Linked DNA regions of Homo sapiens. The protein of the gene in region 1 interacts with the protein of each later gene in a pairwise test. Each region holds a gene or a part of one and is shown in the gene's direction. Other genes may lie near its edges. The genes, in order: MLF1 and DNAJB6.

Region 1 (2,709 bases):
AACCGGCACTGTCCAATGGCATTTTCTGAAATGACTTCGGTAATGACAAAAATGCTATATATCTATTCTGTCCAGTGTAGTAATCACTAGCCACATGTGGCTGTTGATTCACATTTGAAGCATTGCTGGTACAACTGAAGAACTGAATTATTTTATTTTAATTCAAATATAAATGTGGTTAGTGACTACCATACTGTTAACATTAAACAGTGTTTAAACTATAAACAGTTAAATCTAACAGGAAAACAGCTGTTGCTGTCTTAAATTCACTGAAATAGTCTGCCTTATTTTCTGGTTTTTTTTGTTTTTTATTTTTTGTTTTAGGGCAGGGGGTACAGAGTCTGGCTCTGTCGCCAGGCTGGAGTGCAGTGGCGCGATCTCAACTCACTGCAACCTCCACCTCCCAGGTTCAGGCAATCCTCCTGCTTCAGCCTCCTGAGTAGCTGGGACTACAGGCGCGCATCACCACGCCCAGCTAATCTTTGTATTTTTAGTAGAGATGGGGTTTCATCATGTTGGCCAGGATGGTCTCGATCTCTTAACTTGTGATCTGCCTGCCTCAGCCTCCCAAAGTGCCGGGATTACAGGCATGAGCCACCGCACCTGGCCAGCCTTGTTTTTCAAAGCCATTAAGGAATTTTTAAGATAAAACTTTTCTTATATTACAGTGGTTTTTAACATGTTTGTATTGATTTATAAACCATTGGCCATTTTTTAAATGATATTAATATTCACATGTATATTTCTCAGGGAGAAACCTCAACAAAGTCCAGCCATTGAACATGGAAGGAGATCAAATGTTTTGGGGGACAAACTCCACATCAAAGGCTCATCTGTGAAAAGCAACAAAAAATAAATAGCCATGCATTTGATTTGTTTAGTTTTGATTGTTTTAACAGTTAGTAATGGTGCTGGGTAATAAGCATAAGACCAATCTCTTGCTGTTAAATCAGTTCTGTCCTTGGCAACTTTCTTCTGATATCTGAATGTTCATGAAGGTCCTAGCTTTATATTGTCCCTCTTTTAGGAATAAAATTTTGATTTTCAACAATGTGAGTAAATTGAGTCTATTTAATGTAAAACTCTTTAAAACATACTAATTTTTTAAAGCTTATATGCTTATTTCGCTTCCCCAGTTGTTTTTGTGTTGGCTAAATATTCTTTTATATTTATCAAGATTGATTGCAGAGCAGTTCTATCACTTATAATTAGTTATAAGAAATTATAATGTTAAAAAAGTCTCAGTTTTTACTAACACTGTACTAGGGTGATATTAATAAAGGTTTAAATAATTTATCTCTAATTTTATAATGTGTTGTAAAGCCAACTAGCTTAAAACTTTAAAAATAATAAAGCAAAACTACACTAGTACTCTTTTATGAGAAAATAGTTACTATTTTGATAAAGGGCAAGGATAATCAAATAGTTCATTTTCAGAGAAAAATATTTTAAATTGCTAATGTACATGATTGTTTTGGTTATAATTTATTTATAGAATGTATCTTTTCTATATTACATTCTTAATATTCACCAGATATTATATTGACCATTCTCTTTAACTTCTTAATGTGGCATATTTCTACTCTCCTTTCCCACAAACAGCTTCATCTGTCTCCAAGGTTAACATTCTGAAGCTGGAGAGTCCTTGGAGAAACTCTGCTCAGCTTTTTTGTGACATTTAGAAAAATGCATTTGGTATTCTCCAAACCAGAATGATACATTGTCTCAAAATCTGTTAGACAGCTGATGGGTGTTTTTGAGCAACGTCTTAATAATTCAGTTGTTTCTGTTTTAATTATACCATTAAAAATCAGCTTTAGCTTTTTAATTCTAGAATTTAAGCATCAGTCTGTTCTTATAAAAGTTAGGTTTGAAGTTTATAAGAATATAAAATCTTAACTCACATTTGTTGTTTAATATTTCTGTCAAGGAAAAAAGCCCCCAAAAATTGCTATCACTCTATAATCCTAAGTATTTTTCTTTTCAATTTTGTAAGTAAAATTATATGACTATGTTCATACTTCTCTAATTTTTTATATAATATTTTTGTTAATTTTACTAGTTTGTGTTTTATGCCTTTAGTCATTAAAATAAAATGCAAATGTGTTAATTCATTGTTGAAATTGAGCATGTATTAGTTAAAAATTTCCTTTTAGGCATACTTTAGTATACTCCTAACATACCATAACACATTGGGAAATTGTCATAAGGCACACATTTTAAATAACATCTTGATATAAATTAACCTGATAGAGCAAAGTCTTAATAAAGTACATACTTGATTTTCCTTTTGCCTAAATCATTACACTGATGATAACTTGAATCATTGTAGTCAAATCTAAAAACACCCTTTAATAAATAATTGTGTTTAACAGTATAATTCCTGTACATCAGATTGCAGTTAGAGATTGTGGTGAGGCAGAATTTGAGATGGTAGTACCGAGAAAAGTTCTGTTTCTTTCTTAAAAGTCAACTCTATCTTTGCACCATAAAAACATAACTATCGATATCTATACCCCAGAATAATATTTGTTTGCAACAACTTCTTATGATGGGTGTTTAATACTGTTAGTCTGTAAATTGAAACTATTTAAAACTATATACATGCCGGGCGCAGTGGCTCATGCCTGTAATCCCAGCACTTTGGGAGGCTGCGGCAAGTGGATTGCTTGAGGTCACTTCAAGACCAGCCTGACCAACATGGCAAAA
Region 2 (3,827 bases), on another chromosome or scaffold:
TTAGTAGTGTATGACTGGGGCATACACAGTTGAATCTTGTCCTGCATTCTCATCCATTGCCAAGTTTTCATATGAACACTAGATGATAGGTAGTACTGCACACTAATCATTTTTTCTCTTTTGTCTTTTGTATGGTCTGTTATTTTTGACTGAGGATTTCTGGCACATTTAGGGTTATTTGATCCACTGCTACACGTTTTTTTTTTTTTTTGAGACGGTGTCTCGCTATGTCACCCAGGCTGGAGTTCAATGGCGTGATCTCGGCTCACTGCAACCTCTGCCTCCCAGGTTCAGGCGATTCTCCTGCCTTAGCCTCCCGAGTAGGTGGAACTGCAGGCGCCTGCCATGATGCCCAGCTAATTTTTATATTTTTAATAGAGACGGGGTTTCACCATGTTGGCCAGGATGGTCTCGATCTCTTGACCTCGTGATCTGCCTGCCTCAGCCTCCCAAAGTGCTGAGATTACAGGCATGAGCCACTGCGCCCGGCTGCTACATGTTTGTTTAGGTCCACAGTGACATAAATTACTGTTAAGTATTCTGGACTCCAGCTTTAATCAGATTTTAGTATGGTTAAGCCAAGGTTTTGTTGAACATGTTGTAAGTTAAATTGAGCCACAACAGCTTTACAGTAATAACTTGCCTAGTGTTAAAAGCACTGTCAGATTAGTATACTAGTCTGAAATTTTGAGGGGTATGCTGCTTCTCTTTTTTAACGTTACCCTCCTTTTGAATATATGCTGCTTAGGTTTTGCTAATTAGACTAGAGGATTTTTTTGTATTCATTCATTCATTCATTCATTCATTCATGCATTCATGTTGAGCCGGAGGCTCGCTCTGTCACCTAGCCTGGAGTTCAGTGGCACGATGTTGGCTCACTGCAACCTCTTTCTCCTGGGTTCAAGCAATTCTTCTGTCTCAGCCTCCTGAGTAGCTGGGATTACAGGTGCGTGCCTTCATGTCCGGCTTTTTGTATTTTTAGTAGAGATGGGGTTTTGCCATGTTGGCCAGGTTGGTCTCGAACTCCTGACCTCAGGTGATCCACCCACCTCGGCCTGCCAGAGTGCTGGGATTACAGGTGTGAGCCGCTGCACCCGGCCTTTTTTTTTGTATTTAAATAGCGTGCAATTATTTGGTCAGTTGGAACTCTGCAACAGAATATGACCTTGGTCATAGAATCTTTGTAGAAGTCAGTGTTTTAACTCTGTTTAGATCTTGAATCTGGCACAGAGGGTGTTTGAAAGATTCTGAGATCCTGGCCTGTTGGGTGGCAGGTGATTCACCTTTGGCACACAGATGAGCTAGGTAGTGGGGCTGGCTGAGGAAGTAGGGTCCTGGGAATCAGAACATGGAAGGATATGAATGGTGATGTTGGATCTTGCTGCTCAGTGACCCAGGCCTTTTTTTCCCTTTTTAAAAATTTTTTGAGACGGAGTTTCGCTCTTGTTGCCCAGGCTGGAGTGCAATGGTGCGATCTCGGCTCACCACAACCTCTGCCTCCCAGGTTCCAGTGATTCTCCTGCCGCAGCCTCCTGAGTAGCTGGGATTACAGTCAAGTACCACAATGCCCGGCTAATTTTGTATTTTTAGTAGCGTTGGGGTTTCTCCATGTTGGCCAGGCTGGTCTCGAACTTCTGACCTCAGGTGATCTGCCCACCTCCCAAAGTGCTGGGATTACAGGCATGAGCCACCACGCCTGGCCTTTCTCCTTTACTTCACATACTTGCTCAGTCTTGTCACTGTCAGTCCACGTTGTGGACACTGTGATCTTTATTTTTCTATCTCTAGAGGTTCGTTTGTATTATGCTATCAGGATTTTTATTCTAAAACTTACTTTAATGAGTATTTTTACAATTTTAATTTTGAGACAGTCTTGTTCTGTCGCCCAGGCTGGACTGCAGTGGTGTGATCATAGCTCACTGTAGCCTTGAACTCCTGGCCTCAAGCAGTTGTCACGCCTCAGCCTCTGGAGTAGCTGGGTCTATCTGTGGCTGCACGCCACTACGCCTGGCTATCTGGATTTTAGAACTTTGTGTATTTCATTGTAGAGGAAAGGGAGGTTTTACAGTTAAAACCAGTATTCATCTCACCAGTTGGCAGCTCTGAAGCCATTCTCGTGGTTAATGATGTTAGTTTCAAAAGCATAGTTGATTTCTGGATTTAGAATGTGATCTATATCCTTTATTCTTTCCAAGATATCGGAAACTGGCACTGAAGTGGCATCCAGATAAAAATCCTGAGAATAAAGAAGAAGCAGAGAGAAAATTCAAGCAAGTAGCGGAGGCATATGAAGTGCTGTCGGATGGTGAGTGACAGCGAGCTGCTGAAGGACCCTGAGCGGGCATGCCGGAATGCGGAGTGGGTGTTGGGATCCTCCTCAGGGTAGCACAGTATGGACTCAAGTGACTTGTTTTTGATGCCTACTGGATTTTGGGCCCTTCTAAGAGATTTTTACTTTTCTCGTGAAGATTTGAATTGATTTAGGTAACCACGAGTGCTGGGGAGCTCCAGGGCTTCTAGTAGTTTCTCCTAGGATGGCTGTTTTAAAAGCGGGACTAGACATCCTGGGTTTGAGGAACCTGGGAGAGAGGAGGTTGCGGGACTCAGGTCACTGTGCATGTGGCGTGCTTGCCCCCGTTGTGTGTGATCATTCTGACCTTGCTCACCCCCACTGGCTTAAACAATACCATTCCAGTGGAGTCAGCTTTACTGCTTGAGAGGATGTCATTAGTTCCCAAAAAGAGGGGATGGAACATACAGCTAAAATTTAGATTTCCAGTTTCAGGCCTGTTTTCCCCTCCTAGGTCTGGAGCAGAGGTGTTCTATGTTACTGGAAGTCAGATCCATTGGCCTAGTTCACAAATGGGTGAGGGGTCAGAGGTCAGCTGTCGCCTAGATGCAGTCAGGGTTCCATGGGGGAAGTAAAGGCTGTGCATGGGGCCTGGGGTGGGGGAACAGTGACAGAACTGGAAAGCCACACAGTGCCCCTGTCTGCTGCAGTGCTGGGTGGCCTGTTGTGAGCAAAGGCCGAGGCTTTTCCAAGGTTAGGGATGGACTAACTGAACCCTGGAAGTGGGCACTTGGTTAAGTGTATCTGCATGTGGTCAGGTAATTGGCCCTTATTTACAACAAAAAAAATTTTTTTTTTTTTTAAAGAACCCAATTTGAGGCAGAGGTTGCAGTGAGCCGAGATTGCGCCACTGCACTCCAGCCTGGGCGACAGTGCGAGACTGTCTCCAAAAAACAAAACAAAACCAAACCAATCAGAAGGAACCCAGTGTAAGCTTGCCACCTTCAACAGCTACCAGCACACCACCAGCCTTGCTTTCTCTGGTGACACTGTGGCCCACCCCCTTTGTTTTAGAGGAAATTCCAAACATTTTACTTCAAAAAATATGAAAAGACATAAAAACACCGATATTTGAAGTCTTCTTGAAATGTGGCATTTAAGGTCTTGAACTGTTGAGCTTATTCATTGGAAAGTTTATTTTTTTTAAAGAGAGAGGATCTTGCTATGTTTCCTAGGGAGGCCTTGAACTCCTGGGTTGAGGTGATCGTCCTCTCTCCTCAAGTTCCAAGCACCATTGCGCCAGGCTTGTTCCCTTAGATTTGTGCGCTGGGAGTGACAGAGGAGGGCACAGGCCTCAGTGTTACCATCTTGGTCTTCGGTCCTTGTTGTTTGTGTGCTAATTCAGTATTGCCAGATTCAGGATTTTAGGGACTAGTAACATTAGGAAAAGTGAGGGCCAAAATGAAGCTTCATATTTGATAGAGCAGCTTTAAACTACCACACTGAAAAGTCGCTTGGTTCTTTTGGGAGGTGTATG

Evidence for each region.
Region 2: the proteins of MLF1 (region 1) and DNAJB6 interact in binary tests that used the Homo sapiens proteins (3 or more experiments, as listed by UniProt).

What each region holds. Positions count from the first base shown.
Region 1 is NC_000003.12:158,604,347-158,607,055, forward strand, and holds the end of MLF1 (myeloid leukemia factor 1), read left to right. Parts: intron 1-750; coding exon 751-856; 3' UTR 857-1,602; coding exon of another isoform or gene 1,603-1,624; 3' UTR 1,625-2,110; downstream 2,111-2,709. UniProt on the Homo sapiens protein: Involved in lineage commitment of primary hemopoietic progenitors by restricting erythroid formation and enhancing myeloid formation.
Region 2 is NC_000007.14:157,360,966-157,364,792, forward strand, and holds part of DNAJB6 (dnaJ homolog subfamily B member 6), read left to right. Parts: intron 1-2,195; coding exon 2,196-2,305; intron 2,306-3,827. UniProt on the Homo sapiens protein: Has a stimulatory effect on the ATPase activity of HSP70 in a dose-dependent and time-dependent manner and hence acts as a co-chaperone of HSP70. Plays an indispensable role in the organization of KRT8/KRT18 filaments.